Linked DNA regions of Homo sapiens. The protein of the gene in region 1 interacts with the protein of each later gene in a pairwise test. Each region holds a gene or a part of one and is shown on either strand. Other genes may lie near its edges.

Region 1 (7,712 bases):
CTTCCTGGGCAGTCCGGCCTGGGTCAGCTCAAGACACCAACAGGAGGGGTGAGTGAGAACTGTGGCATGGGCCCAGGCAGTAGGGAACAGCCTGTTCTGAAGACTGACCACTGTAGGAGTCACAGGGGAACAGCCAGGCAGTAGAACGAGAGGCCCCAGCCGGGCACAGTGGCTCATGCCTGTAATCCCAGCACTTTGGGAAGCCGAGGTGGGCAGATCACCTGAGGAGTTCAAGACCAGTCTGGCCAACATGGTGAAACCCTGTCTCTACTAAAAAAAAAAATACAAAAATTAGCTGGGCGTGGTGGCAGGCACCTGTAGTCCCAGCTACTCGGGAGGCTGAGGCAGGAGAATGACTTGAACCCAGGAGGCAGAAGTTGCAGTGAGCTGAGATCACGCCATTGCACTCCAGCCCGGGCAACAAGAGCAAAACTCCATCTCAAAAAAAAGAAAAGAAAAGAAGGTATGGCCCCAGCCTGGGGAGGCATACAGCTTAGATGGAGCAGTAATGTCCACAAAGTAGAATAACCAAACACACAAGACAACTAGGGAAAAAGGGCGTGTAGCACAGCATAAAGACAGAGCTAACTCAATGAGCGCCACTTTCACAGGGAAGATAAATACTGCACTTATCCTGGGGGAGGCTTCCGGGTTGAACAATCAGTATACCCAAGCCAGTTGTGTACAAAGGTCAGGAAAGAGACCCTGGCCTTGGACTCAGAAAGTGCCAGGGTTATGTAAGAGGCTGGCTGATGAGGGGAAACTGTAGTCGGAGCAGCAGCTGGAGCCCACATGCACCTACCATGAGCAGGTCCCTGCCCTCTGGCTCCAGATTGGGCACAATCTCTTCCAGTCCCTTCCTGGTCCACTTAGGGAAGCTGCCCTTATAGTCAGGCAGCTGGGTGACCCCGGGCCATGTGTCTTCGCTGGGTGTCCCCAGCATACGAAAGATACGAAAGAGCTGGTCAATCTCAGAGTCACCAGGAAACAGGGCTTTTCGAGTCACCTGAAATGGGGAAGAAGAGAAGGTGTGGGGTCCGCCACTTTGTTATACAGAATCCAATACCAGATAAGTGGCCAGACCCAGGGAGAGGCCTGTCAAGATATCTTTTCCATGACTGTGCAAAGAATTCTGGCCTCTTTTGGAATAAAGCTACCTTCCTCAGTCCTTTAGCCAGTACCAAACACCTTTTTTTAAAAAATAGAGACGGAGTCTTGCTCTGTCACCCAGGCTAGAGTGCAGTCGTGCGATCACAGCTCACTGCAGCCTCAACCACAGGCTCAAGCAATCCTCCTGCCTCAACCTCCCAAGTAGCTGGGACTACAAGCATGCACCACCACACCCAGCTAATTTTTGTAGTTTTTTAAGAGCTGGGGATTTGTTACGTTGCCCAGGCTGGTCTCAAACTCCTGGGCTCAAGCCATCCTCCCATCTCAGCCTCCCAAAGTGCTGGGATTACGGGCGTGAGCCATGTCCAGCCCCAAACACTCTTTAATCCGCCTCGAATGGGAGCATCAGTGGACCCCACCCAACCCCAGTAGGACCCTGCCTGTGGCACCCTGTGGCCATGTGTGCCCCTCTCTCTACCATCTCTGCAAAGATGCAACCAATGCTCCAGATATCCACAGCTGTGGTATAGAACTTGCTGCCCAAGAGAATCTCGGGGGCGCGATACCACAGTGTCACCACCTGCAGGGCAAAGAAACAGTATCACTCAGGGTGGCTGAGTGCATGGGTGACACTCCTCCTGCTGCCCCTCTCTCCTCTTTGTCTCACAATACCTCATGGGTGTAGGTGCGCAGGGGCACCCCGAAGGCGCGAGCCAGGCCGAAGTCAGCCAGCTTGATGGCACCCAACTCATTGATGAGCAGGTTCTGGGGCTTCAGGTCTCGGTGGATGACCCGATGTGAGTGGCAGAAACTCACCCCCTGCAGCAGCTGGAAGAGGTAGCTCTGGAGAAACGAGCGCGAGGTGCAGCCAGCTGAGCGGAGGTGCTGCGTGGACAGGGATGGCAGGGATGGGGTGTCACCTCTCCTTCCCTGCCCTTCCTTCCCTACCTTGATGAGGTGCAGGGGGAGCTCTGAGCCTGGGGTGGAGTCCATGTACTTCTTCAGGTCCTGGCTGAGGAACTCAAACACCAGATAGAGCTTCCTCTCGTTGTGCACCACGTCCAGCAGTCTGACAGGGAGATGGCAGTCAGGATGCTACCTTCGCCATCCCAGCTTCCCCACCTCAATCCCCAACTCACCGGACGATGTTGGGGTGCTTCAGTTCCTTGAGCAGCGAGATCTCCCTGATGGCAGTGCTTGGGACCCCCTCCATCTCCCTGCAAGAAACAAGGGCACAGCCGTGGGCAGAGACTTGGGCCAAGAAGGGCACTTCCAGCCAGGGGGATCGGCTTCTCCTTAACCCCACAGAATGACCAGGGCCCCGGCAATGGAGACCTGTGCTCCTTGGCACGTCATCCACCAAACTCCACAGTCAGGGCCCCGGCAAAGGCTGGTCAGAAGGCAGTGAACTGGGGAGAGGACAGGTAAGGGCTGCTGGGCAGCACCCAGAGGAGTTAAACGTGGACTCCAGGAAAGAGGGAACGGATCAGGGAGCGCCCAGGTTGTGATGGCCCAGGGTGGGTAACTCAGGGGCCGTCCCAGCACTCACAAATCCAGTCTGATCTTCTTCAGGGCCACCAGCTGCCCTGTCTCCCTGTTCTTGGCCTTGTACACCACCCCATAGGTGCCCTCTCCGATCTTCTCTACCTTCTGGAACATATCCATGGCCACAGAGCTGCCTGGGAAACAGAAGGCACCGGGCAATTTGCACCCCACGCCCAGCGCTCCCGTTGCTCCTCCAGCTTCCATGTGGCGCCCTGCCCAGCCCAGCCCAGCCCAGACTGCCCAGCTCCCAAGGCCCACGGCCTAGCCACCCCAACCCCAGCTCATCCTGCCTGGGAACCTGGCTGGGGGTCGGAAACCGCCCCTCACCCAGCCCAGCCCGGACCCCAAGGGGGTCAGGGGGCCCCCTTCACCCAGCCCAGTTCAGCCAGGACCCCCAGGCTTCTCGCCCATGCCCGGCCTCGGAGGGCAGGGCCCACACTCTCCCACCCAGCCCCCTGCCCATCCCAGCCAGAACCCCCAGGAAGTCAGAGACCACCCCTCGCCCAGCCCAGCCCAACATGGACCCCCAGGCCTCTCACTTGTGCCGGGCCTTAGAGGGCAAGACCACCCTTTCCCACCTGGGTCACTGCCCAGCCCAGCCAGTCCCAGGCTCTGGGTACACATGGCGGCCAGGAAGGGCTGCCCAGGGGCCAGGGCCACTGGGGGCAGAGGTCAGGGGTCAGGAGGGTCTTAAAGCCACAGTCCTGTCTTAGGCTGCACGGTCAGGGCCCAGGGCCTCAGCCCGGCCCGTGTGACGACGCTCAGCCTCCTCTGAAGGCAGAGCCTGGCCAGGGGCAGACCCCTGCATCCTGGGCCCCCCACCCCAGCCCCTGGGCCCCTGGTGCCCTACCCTGAGGCCCCAGGCCCAGAATTCACCAGAAGCCCTGAGAGGCTGCAGCCCACAGCCTGGGTTGCAGCTCCCCCTCCTGGCCCCCGCCGGCGCTGCACCACGAGCACACTTCAAGAGCACGCCCCCTGGGCCTTTATTCACCAGGACCTTCTGGAACCCTCCATGGCCCCACACCAAGCACGGCCCCGGCGCCCAAGCTCGGCCACCTGCAGTCTCCTGGGGTGGGGCTGTCGGATTTATGGCATGCTTTCTGGGTTCTCATTGCTGAGCCAATCCCAAAGTAGGGGAAGGGGCTGGATTCATCACCCGCCCCTCGGCTTTCGAGCTCCAGACAAGGCCGTCGCTGGGGAGGCGTCTGTGCTCTCCCGGGCTCCTGCAGCTCCAGAGGGTTCGGGCTCTGAAGCAGGTGAGGGTGTTGCTAGGCTGCTGTTTCCTACTGGCTGCCGCCCCGCTCCTGCTTGTACAGTCTCTGCTCCCGGATGGCTTGTTCCAACAAGGGCAGGTTCATCCCCTCCACACAGGTCAGCACGCGCGCCTTCACCACGGAGCCTCTGTCTGCAAGACAAACACCAGGGCACGAACGGCGACTGAGCGGCGTGTCAACAACGTCCTCCAAGGTGCATTCCAGCTGTTCCCTCCACAGCTCAGTCCTGGGTTTTGGCAGCAAGTGATGTGGACAATAACAGCATATGGGGCAAAGGCAACTGAGTATTTGGGCCTAGAACCGTGGGCCTGTCATGCACAGTCGGCCCGTGTCTGGAACTTAGCAGGTGGTCAGAAAACCCCTCTGGACTGAGGGAAAGGCCCCCTTGGCACCTTGGGACACAATGTCATCAGGAACCGGGGAAAAGAGACACCCATATTTTAAAAATCCAAGAGACTGAGCTCCCGGTAAGTTTGGCTTTATAGGAGCAGGTCATCCCACCCTGGACGAGGGGGGCTTCTAGCAGATGCGGTGGTGACCTGATACATAATGGAAAGGTTTGCCACTATTCAGGTGGCACCAAACAGGAAAGACATCTCCGAGAGACTTTTTAAAAATTTTCTTTCTTTTGACAGGTGAACTGGCTCACACCTGTAATCTCAGCACTTTGGGAGGCCAAGGCATGTGGAACACTTGAGGTCAGGAGTTCAAGACCAGCCTGGCCAACATGATGAAACCCCATCTCTACTAAAAATACAAAAATTAGCCGCGTGTAGTGGTGCATGCCTGTAATCCCAGCTACTTGGAAGGCTGAGGCAGGAGAATTGCTTGAACCCAGGAGGTGGAGGTTGCAGTGAGCCAAGATCACGCCACTGCACTCCAGCCTGGGCAACAGAGCAAGACTCCACCTAAAAAAAAAAATTTTTTTTTTGAGACAGGGTGTTGCTCTGTCACTTGGGCTGGAATGCAGTGGCTCAATCATGGCTCAATGTAGCCTCCACCTCCCAGGCTCAGGTGATCATCTCAGCTTCCTGAGGAGCTGGGACTACAGGGACGCACCACCACACCCAGCTAATTTTTGTATTTCTTGTAGAGATGGGGTCTCGCCATGTTGCCCAGGCTGGTTTCAAACTCCTGGGGTCAAGTGATCTGCCCGCCTCGGCCTCCCAACATGCATGGATTATAGGCGTGAGCCACTGTGCATTGCTGACATTTTTTTTTTCTTTCTTTTTTCCCCAGTCATAGCTTGCAAGAGAAAAAAAAAAGTTAAAAAAATTTTTTGCACTCATGCTCTTTCTGCTCTCTGAGCACTTTAATAAATAGATTTCCGAGATGGGTGGATCACCTGAGGTCAGGAGTTCATGACCAGCTTGGCCAACACGGCAAAACCCCGTCTCTACTAAAAATACAAAAATTAGCCAGGTGTGGTAGCTGGCACCTGTAAACCCAGCTACTCGGGAGGCTGAGGCAGGAGAATCGCTTGAACCTGGGAGGCAGACGTTGCAGTGAGCCGAGATCAAGCCACTGCACTCCAGCCTGGGCAACAGAGTGAGACTCTGTCTCAAAATAAGTAAATAAATAGATTCAATGTTCTAGGCTATTACATTGTTTTCTTTTGACGCTGTTTGAGATAAAGGCTCTGCCTGCCCTTTCCTCTAGTCTAGGTCATTTATAGCACAGCCTGAGGGCAGAATTCAGGGTGTCATCCTGCCTAGCTGTCTATACAGGCTACCCTTAGGCAATGAACTCATTTGAAACATGAGGTTGCCTGTGTGTCTCAGCTTCTGTTAGCCCCAGTGCTGACACAGGTCAGAGAGGAATCGGGGCGTGGCGCGGTGGCTCCCAACACTGTAATCCCAACACTTTGGGAGGGCAAGACAAGCAGATCACTTGAGGCCAGGAGCTCAAGACCAGCCTGGCCAACAAGCGAAAACCCTGTCTCTACTAAAAATACAAAAGTTACCCAGGCCCGACTACTTGGGAGGCTGAGGCACGAGAATCACTTGAACCGGGGAGGTGGATGTCGCAGTGAGCCAAGATTGCGCCACTGCACTCCAGCCTGGGAAACAGAATGAGACTCTGTCTCAAAAAAAAAAAAAAAAGGAAAAAAAAAGGAAAAAGGCCAGGCGCAGTGGCTCACATCTGTAATCCCAGCACTCTGGGAGGCTGACGCAGGCGGATCACCTGAGGTCAGGAGCTGAAGACCAGCCTGGCCAACATGGTGAAACCCTGTCTCTACTAAAAAGACAAAAATTAGCTGGGTGTGGTGGCGGGCACCTGTAATCCCAGCTACTAGGGAGGCTGAGGCAGAATCGCTTGAACCCAGGAAGCAGAGGTTGCAGTAAGCAGAGATCGTGCCACTGCACTCCCAGCCTGGGTGACAGAGCGAGACTCCATCTCAGGAAAAAAAAAAAAAGATTAAGAACCTGGAGCAAAGAAGAAGGGCCTGGGTTATAAAAAGCAGTCAGAATGCAGTGGGGTGAGGCCTGGGAAGAGGAAGGGGTTATACGGAGCACAGATGTTCTTTTAGGAGGTTTGTCTGCAAAGGGAGGGAAGGTCATGGGCAGGTAGGTCAGACTCTAGTGTAGAAGATGACTTCTTGTCATTGAGACTATTATTTCCATATAGAGGAGGCTTGAACACCTTATATGTGGACAGGGAAGAACTGTGGTAACCCCTTAGGTAGGAGGGACCCCGCTTCCTCTTAGACTAGAGGAAGGAGCTAACGGTGGCCGTTTCAGTGTCTGATGGTCGGTGGCCGTTTCAGTGTCTGATGGTAGGAGGAAGAACGGCTGCCTGTGGCCTCGATTCTAGCTGGCTCATAAAGCAATAAGCCGGGAGGGACAGGGGAGGAGAGGAAGTGGGTTCTTGTGAGGCAGGGGAATTTCTGGACTAGCTGTGGTGGCGCCGGGGAGGGGGGTGTGGCCAGGACACAGGAAGGATTTCTAGGCAGAGCAGGGGAATGCCAGTGAGCCCCTGAAATCATTGAGCTCCAAATCCTTGGAGTTCTGTGATCTTTCTGCACTCAACAGTTGGCAGAACCAGGAGGGTGGAGGCTGGGGTCTTGGGGCAGGAGTGAAGCTGCCAGGAAAGTGGCTGAAATGGTAGTGAGGCCCAACGGGGAAGAGAGATGGGGGAGAAAGCCCGGGAGTCCTGAGTCCACAGGTCCTGATAGGGCAAGAGGGACGCAGCAGAAGTAGAAGGGAGAGTGGATGGCATGCAATTTCAGGAAAACAAGTCCAAGGTGCAGCAGCAGGCGTGGGAGGTGGAATTGGGGCAGAGGTGCACAGTGGTGGAACTGGTTGGCAGCAGGGAGACAGGGAGGGATGTGTGATGCTGACACACCCGAGGAGCCGGGGAAACTCCGGCCCTGCTCCAGACTCTGTGGGTGTGTGGTTTGGGGAGAAAGGTTTGGGCAAGTCCCAGAGCTGTAAGGATGCTCGAAGAGGGAGGTGCACAGGGGACACACAGGAAGGTTTCCCTCCCTCCCTTTCTCTTCTCTTTTCTCTTTCTTTTCTTTTCTTTCTTTTTCTTTCTTTCTCTCTCTCTTTTTTTTTTTTTTTTTGACAGGGTCTCACTCTGTCACCCAGGCTGCAGTACAGTGGTACAGTCTCAGCTCACTGCAATCTCTGCCTCCCTGGCTCAAGTGATCCTCCCACCTCAGCCTCCCCAGTAGCTGGGACTACAGGCATGTGTGCAACAACGCACCCTGCTAATTTTTGCATTTTTTGTAGAGACGGGGTTTCACCATGTTACCCAGGCTGGTTATTATTATTATTTTTT
Region 2 (7,935 bases), on another chromosome or scaffold:
TTTAATTTCAAGATTTAATATTCTAGTCATGAAATAAAACAAGTCTGAAATCCTTTTCCAGTAAAAATCTACTCTTTAGACACACAAATAACTGCATATTAGATTTTTAAAAATATTTAAGATTAAACACAAGCCAAAAATCACCACAAGGTGACTATTTTTGTCCTAAAATTTACTGCAAGCCAGAAACTTCTAAGGGAGAGGCAGTAAAGAGTAGTGATTAAAAACATACCATGCTTTGGAGATAGTCAACCTGGGTTTGAATCCTGGCTGTGCCCCTCTAAGCTATGTGATGAATATTGGGATTTACTTTACCTCTTTATCTTTTGTAAAATAGGAACAACAAAAATACCTACTATAGAGGAGTGCTGTGGGGATAAACACAAAAGAATGCAATAAAAATGCTTAGTATAATGTTTGCTACATAGTGAGTGATCAACATGTGTTAGTTATTATTATTCTCTCTCTCCTTTTTTTTTCAGATACAGGGTCTTTCTGTGTTGCCCAGGCTGGTGCAAACTCCTGGGCTTAATGATCCTCCCAGCTTGGCCTCCCAAAGCAATTACAGGCATGAACTACCACACCTAGAAATGCCGTGTAGAATGGTAGTCTAACTTTACTATTTAGAATTACTAAATAGAAGTTATTTACCAATACGCGGATAATATGTTCTCTTTATATATCTTATTTATTTTCTCAGGGAATTTCATAAACTTTCGATTTTTTACAACTACAATTAATTGTAAAAACAATTATTAGTTATTAAAAAAAATATGGCCTGGCGCAGTGGCTCAAGCCTGTAATCCCAGCACTTTGGAAGGCCGAGGCAGGTGGACTACCTGAGGTTAGGAGTTCGAGACCAGCCTAGCCAACATGGTGAAACTGTCTCTACTAAAAATACAAAAATTACCCAGGCACGGTGGCACACCTGTAATCTCAGCTACTCGGGAGGCTGAGGCAGAAGAATTGCTTAAACCCGGGATATGGAGGTTGCAGTGAACTGAGATTGCACCATTGCACTCCAGCCTGGGTGACAAGAGAGAGACTCTGTTTCAAAAAAAAAAAAAAGTGAATTAAAGTATGGTCTTACAAATGGATACTGAAGAACAAGAATGTCCATATTGGCTGTGCACAGTGGCTCATGCATGTCATCCCAGCACTTTGGGAGGCTGACGTAGCTGGATTGCTTGAGCTCTGGCATTCGAGATCAGCCTGGGCAACATGACAAAACCCCGTCTGTACAAAAAATACAAAAGTTAGCTGGGCATGGTGGTGCACACCTGTATTCCCAGCTAGTTAGAAGTCTGAGGTGGAAGGATCGCTTGAGCCTAGGAAGTTGAGGCTGCAGTGAGCTGAGATCGCACCACTGCAACCTGGGTGACAGGGTGAGACCTTGTCTCAAAGGAAAAAAAAAAAAGAAAGAAAATATCCATACTTTTTGTTCAGACAACTGCAACTAGTTACTTACCCACCTATTAATTACTTGTAATTATATTTATAGTAGATTAAATTGTCACTGGCAATCTCATAGGCAGTAAGATAGTTTTAATAAGGATAAGTATATAATTAAATGGGAGCTCTTAAAGACTCCTGGTAACATTTTAATTGGTTTAATCTTCTGCCTTGCAACTGGCAACTGGTATTCAGTAAAAGCCATAAAAACATAATATTGTTGGACCTAGGAATAGCCCCAAAGAGGTTATGAAGATGTTAATTGAATTATTTTTGTTTTTCATTTTTTGGGTAGCAGCTTTATTATAATTCAAACACCATAGAAGTAATACATTTAAAGTGTACAATTCAATGGTTTTTAGTACAGGTTGCATATCCCTGATACAAAAATCTGAAATGCTCCAAAATCCAAAGCTTTTTGAGTGCCAACATGACACTCAGAGGAAATGCTCATTTTGGATTTTCAGACTAGGTTGCTCAACCAGTAAGTATATAATTTAATGCAAACATTTCCAAAACTGAAAAAAAAGTTTAAAATTCAAAATACTTCTGGTCTCAAATATTTTGGATAATACTCAACCTAAATATTCACAGTTGCGCAACCATCAACACAATCAATCTCAGAACATTTTTCTCACCTCAAAAAGAAACCTTCAAAAAATCAGTTGGGCATGGAGGCATGCGCCTGTGGTTCCAGCTACACAGGAGGCTGAGGCAGGAGGATTGCTTGATCCTGGAGGTCAAGGCTACAGTGAGTCATGTTCACACCATTGCACTCCAGCCTGCAGCCTGGGGGACAGAGCAAGGCCCTGTTTCCAAAAAAAAAAAAAAGAAAAAAAGAAAAGAAAAAAAGAAAGAAACCCCCATATCATTTAACTATCATCCCCTAATCCCATGCCTGCCCCTAGCCCTAAGCAACCACTTCCTTACTTTCTGTCTCTATATATTTGCCTATTCTGGACATTCACGTAAGTGGAATCATATAATATGTGGTCTTTTGTGACTGGCTTCTTTCATTTAGCATACTGCTTTCAAAGGTTATGCATGTTATAGCATGTATTAGTATTTTCTTTTTATGGCCCAATAAGATTCCATTGTATAGGTCGGTGTGACGGCTCATGCCTGTAATCCCATCACTTTCAGGCTAAGGAGGGAGAATTGCTAGAGGCCAGGAGTTTGAGACCAGCCTGGACAACATAGGAAGTCTCATGGCACCCCCATCTGCGCCACGGAGCCAGACCCCATCTCTTAAAAATAAAAATTTGATTGTACATAGATGTATCACATTTGATTTATACAGGCGCCAGCTGATGAACATTTAGGTTGTTTCATCTTTGGCTATTATGAATAATGCTAACGTTTGTAAAAAAGTTTTTGCATGGACAAATATTTTCCTTTCTCTTGGGTATATATTTAGGAGTGGAATTTGCATTATTCTTATTGGAGTGAAAATCAGAAGCAATTTCATGGTCTAACAATGGAATTATGTTACACTCTCAATAGTATTATGCAGAAATGCTACAGTCTCAAGAGTAACATGCAGAAAAATGGTGGCTTTTTTGAATGAAGACCATATAATAATAGGCTACATGAAGTGAAAAAAAGAAAAAAAAAGGATACAACCCACTTGAAATCCTCCTAGGGCTTCCCATTCCTTCTTCTGTTCTATGGCATCTGTCCTCTGCTTCCACATCCTGCCTCAGTTGTCTGAGGGCCAGCCACACTAGCTTTCAGAGATTTTTAGAACGTCTCAGCTTCGGAGCCTTTTCACATAACTTCCTCTGCTTGTATCATTCTTTGCCCAGTGGTTTCAAGTCTCATCTTAAATGTCACTTCTTCAGAAAAACCTTCTCTGATATCCCAAACCAGGCGGAAAGGCAAGCGTTTCCACAGCAGCCGGCGATTTTCCATCTTAACGGTTTTAATACCAGAATTGTTTACTTGGTCAAATATTGAGAGCCTTTTATACACAGGGATAGAGGGTGAAACATGCAAGATCCCTGCCGCCTGCGACCTTATATTCTAGGGAGGGGATACATGCACAAGTAAACAAGTAAATGTACTTGGTAATTTTACATAGTGATAATTAGCTCAATGGTTATCCTCTGTTTGGACTGTAAACTCCATGAAGGCAGGAGCTATGTCTGTCTTGGCTACTTCCAGTTTGCTGAGTCTGGCCACTAAATAAACTCAACACATATTTTTTCACTGACAGTTAAAATAACTATATAAAAAACAAATGGAAAAAACAAACGAGACTTCTATAAATGGTTGAGATCTAGCTCTTCCTCTTTCAAAACTCTGTAATACTACATATTTTTAAATAATTAAAACAATCAAAATAGCAAAAAGTTACCGTTTGTACTAACAGAACCCCAAATAAAACCCATTTATGTCACCACACATTCTTTAAGCACCTGGTAATAAAACCTATTCGGAAATACTCAGACGTGTTGGTTGAGTGGATAAAATCCCCTTGCCACATTGCCAAGCAGGTTCCTCGCCGTCAGCAGTATAATTTACAGTGTTTCACTGAGGCCTTAAGCACCCATGATTTGATTCTCCCTAATTTTCCGATTCCTAAAACCCTTTAGAATCTCCCTCCACCCACACAATGTGGCAGTGAGAAAAACCGCAATTCTATTTACATGTCAACGGTAAGAACACGTAATACTTTGCTAGGTCAACAAATCTGCAAGATCTCCACCCAAGAGATCAGTAGCCCCTTCCCAGTGAATCCTTCTAAGAGCCTGGGGACGAGTAGGGCTAGATAAAACCAAGCTGCTGTAAAGCTGGACCACAGGAGCGGATCGTGAAATCCCCTCCCCCAAGCGCAGCGCTCGGCCGCTTCTTTCTTCCCCAGGCGCATGCGCAGCGCACTCTCCGGCCACCGCACGCCCCCTCAGTGGGGGCCCAGAGACGCTGACGTCACCGTGCGGTCTGCAAGCAACCCTTCCGCTCCTTCAAGGAAAATGAGTCCACGGACCTTCGGCTTTTCTTAGCCACGAGAAAACGTCCTCCCTCCTTCCATCCTAGTGCCAACGACTTCCCCAGCCCGTCTCCTTTCGGCCGCACTTCTCTGTACTTTCGTTGGACCGGGAAGGCGGCGGGGAGGAACAGGAAGGGTGAAAGACCAAGTCCGCGTAGTTTACAAGGAGTGGGCGAGTCTAGGAATCGGTCCGCGAGGGCGGAGCCGAGGAAGCCGGCACTTCTTCCTCCCTTCCCCTCTCTTCCCCTCCCTCCCCAGCCTTCCCCGCGAGCGGACGCGGCAGCGCCTCTGTCTCGCTTTTTCTTATTTTTCCCCCCTTTCCCCTTTCTTTTTTTTTTTTTCTTTTCTTTTCTCCCCTCCCCCCCTTTCACCATTTCCCCTCGGAGGCGCTTTCCCCGGGCAGGGGCAGAGCCGGTCTCACCCCCCGCCTCTCCCCGGCCCCCGCCGCCCTATGGCGAGAGGGAGCCCCCTCCCAACCCGGGCTCGAGCGGCGGCGGCCTCAGGCCGGGGGTCATCATGGAACTAATTCGCTGACCGACCCAGCGGCCGCAGCCGTGCGTCCCGCTCGAGCGCCAGCGCCCGCGCCCGCGCCCCCCGATCCGCTTCCCCTTTCTCCCTCCTCAGTTGGCCGAGTCGTCCCGCGCGCACCGCCTCCGCGCGCCTATGAGAATGAGGTGGTAACGGGCCCCCGGATGACCCCGCGTCACCACTGTGAGGCCTACAGCTCTGCCGGGGAGGAGGAGGAGGAGGAAGAGGAGGAGAAGGTGAGGGGCGGGGGCGGGGGCGGGGGCTCGACGCGTCTCCGCGGCCGGCGTCGACGCGCTGGGGCCCCGCTGCTCCCCCCGCGCCGCCCCCGTGGCAGCGCCCTTGGCCGCGCGCTGCTCGCCGGAGACCCACCCTCCCGCATCCCCCAGCCCGGGGAACCTCGGGGCCGCCCTCTTCGTCCTCTCCGGCCCAGACAGACCCGTCACCTGCCCACTTGAAAACGGCACTACTGTGTTCCTTTTCGGGCCAGTTTTTCTGTCAGCGAGTAACTTTTTTTTGTGGCAGCGGCAAATTAGCTACTCTATAGTGCGTGTTGGAGGCTCTACGAGCCCGTGTTAATACACAAAGAAGGGGACACACCCCCACCCTCAGGTTGAACGATTCTCCGGGGACACCAGGAGGATTACTAACTTTGCACGGCAGACTGAATGCCAAATGAATGGGGTGAACCTCCGGTGCTGTGAAATTCGGGGGAGGGCAACGTTACCCAGGGCTTGGGGCGGGTGGGTGGGGGGAATCCGGGGGAGGTGAGATTTGAGTTGTGCTCTAAAGGCTAGATTAAATAACTGGAATTTGAAAGGAGGACAGAGGAGCCTCCGCTGGAGCTAGGGGGCTCCGTTACAGATCCTTTTGGCAGAAGTTGACAATTGGGTATCAAAACAGTGGAAGGTGTTTCGGGAGGTAGGATGGATTCAGACTCTGAAGGGGTTTGAACTAAAATGTTTATGTTTTATTCTGTCAGTGGGGAGCCACTCGACTTAGAGCAGCAGAGCATTACAGTAATGACGTTAAATAACAACATTTGATGAGGCTTATTATCTGCCAGGCATTCTCCTAAGTGGCTTGCAATTCACTTAATCCCCCCAAGGCTGGTAGTAGGAGCCTCATTTTACAGATGAGGAAAACTGAGACTCCACAAGATTAACTTTCTCCTTAGGTAACGCGGCTAAAACCCAGTAGCCAGAATTAAGTCTGATTCTACGCTGTGTGGTCTCTGTCCTGAAAATGAGTTTGTTGAAATAGCAGTGTTATCTGCTGCTAGCTTTTCCAGGTCATTTGTGGCAGATGAAATAGAAAGGATTGGACAAATAGATTAAGAAATAATGGACGGAATAGATGTAGATTGGCTAATCTGGGACCAGAGAATCTCCGAGAGATTCTGAGCCCCTCTACTAGAAATTTCTTGATACCGATGAAGGGCAGACTAATACAGTCAGCATGTGTTAGGGAAGTTCAGTAAAAATGATCTGCAGTTACAGGTAGTTTATGTGGTAATGTGACATCCTAGTAGGTTAGAATGGAGCTTAGCATGTGTGTTGGTCAAGATTGGAAGCTGAGTGTGTCCGTGTTTTGTTTTGATTGTGTAATACATTAAAAATGAATATTCATCTTCCTATGTATGTTTCTTCGTCTTTAAAATGGGCTTTATGGCTGAAATGGGGGTGTAGTAAGAAAAATAAAAAACTAGAAAAAAAGGGCTTTCCACAGTTTCATCAAATTGTGGGAACATTACATGAGTTAATATGGCATAGCGCTTTGAACAATAGGTAGTCAAATAGTAAGCACTCAGTGCTTTTACTTGTTAAGCTGTTTACAAGTGAAGCTATTAGGCATATGCTCAACTCTGGAGATTAACATCAAAGAATTCATTATTAGGAAAGGCAAGTTTACCAATAGTCTCAAAGCAACTAAATGTAAAGGTAGAATTATGTCCAAGTACAGATGTTGGAAGGCAGGGCACAACTGCACAAATCCAGAGAGTCTTACAGACTGATGGCTACTTTAGGAAGGGAAGTATGAGCTAGAGGACATTTCAAGTTGAAACAGCAGTGCTTGTACAGCCAGGGAGATTGGGAAAGAGCATACACTTGGAATTGCAAATACCTTTAATTCATTGTTTCTAGTGCATAAAGTCAAGGAGGGAATAGTAGAACTTCAGTTTCTTGTATGGCCACGTTAATCCCTCCTTTCAGAAGAGGAACTAAGATTCAGAAGTCAGCACTAGTACAGGATTATTAATGGAATTGGTGTGATGATGATAGCAAATACAATAATACATATTAGTGAAGTTGTTTATATTGTATACCCAGCACTGTGCAGCACTTTTCCTCAGAGGAGCAGGGGGCCCTGTATGTATATCTGTAATAGTTATGCTGTACAGTAAGCCTTTTATAAACTATTACCTCAGACATTAAGCTATTTGATAACCGTGGAGAAAGGAGAAGCGGCAGCAATTGAGAGGATGGGAGGAGAAATGTGAAACTGGCATAAAGTTTGATGTGTGTGGAATATGCCAACTAAAATAGTCTTTTGTTATTTCTTGCTTTTCTAAAAAAGCATGCAAAGTTGGATGTAACCAACAATAGGCATACAGTAACAAAACATAACTATATAGTTCTGTTAAAACTAAAATTGTATTTTAAATGTTTGCATTTTCTTAGCGGAATTTATTAATTCAACTCAAAATGTGCTTTACCCGTAGAAAATAGGCTTGTGCACTGTCAGTAAAAGAAAAGCCAAGCCCATGCTTTCTGTATCATAGTATGTCTTACTAGTCTTGTCTTTTGTTCTTTTATGTGGAACATACATTATGACCCTATACTGCTAAATATTTCACAAGAATAGTAATATTCTCTTACAGAATCACAGCAAAATTTTCAATTTTGGTAAATTTAGCATTTGATACATTGACTTGTGTAATCTACCGTCCCAATTATCTCATTTGACCC

The links. The genes of interacting proteins can lie anywhere in the genome.
Region 2: the proteins of CDK3 (region 1) and CCNI interact in binary tests that used the Homo sapiens proteins (3 or more experiments, as listed by UniProt).

Annotation. Positions count from the first base shown.
Region 1 is NC_000017.11:75,996,489-76,004,200, reverse strand, and holds the start of CDK3 (cyclin-dependent kinase 3), read right to left. Parts: upstream 3,347-7,712; 5' UTR 3,234-3,346; exon of another isoform or gene 2,790-3,233; 5' UTR 2,776-2,789; coding exon 2,660-2,775; intron 2,328-2,659; coding exon 2,250-2,327; intron 2,180-2,249; coding exon 2,059-2,179; intron 1,954-2,058; coding exon 1,783-1,953; intron 1,691-1,782; coding exon 1,589-1,690; intron 1,007-1,588; coding exon 803-1,006; intron 1-802. Other genes in the region: CST complex subunit TEN1, read right to left, coding at 3,939-4,060. UniProt on the Homo sapiens protein: Serine/threonine-protein kinase that plays a critical role in the control of the eukaryotic cell cycle; involved in G0-G1 and G1-S cell cycle transitions. Interacts with CCNC/cyclin-C during interphase. Phosphorylates histone H1, ATF1, RB1 and CABLES1.
Region 2 is NC_000004.12:77,072,742-77,080,676, reverse strand, and holds the start of CCNI (cyclin-I), read left to right. Parts: upstream 1-4,687; 5' UTR 4,688-5,133; coding exon of another isoform or gene 5,134-5,205; intron 5,206-5,766; exon of another isoform or gene 5,767-5,887; intron 5,888-7,935.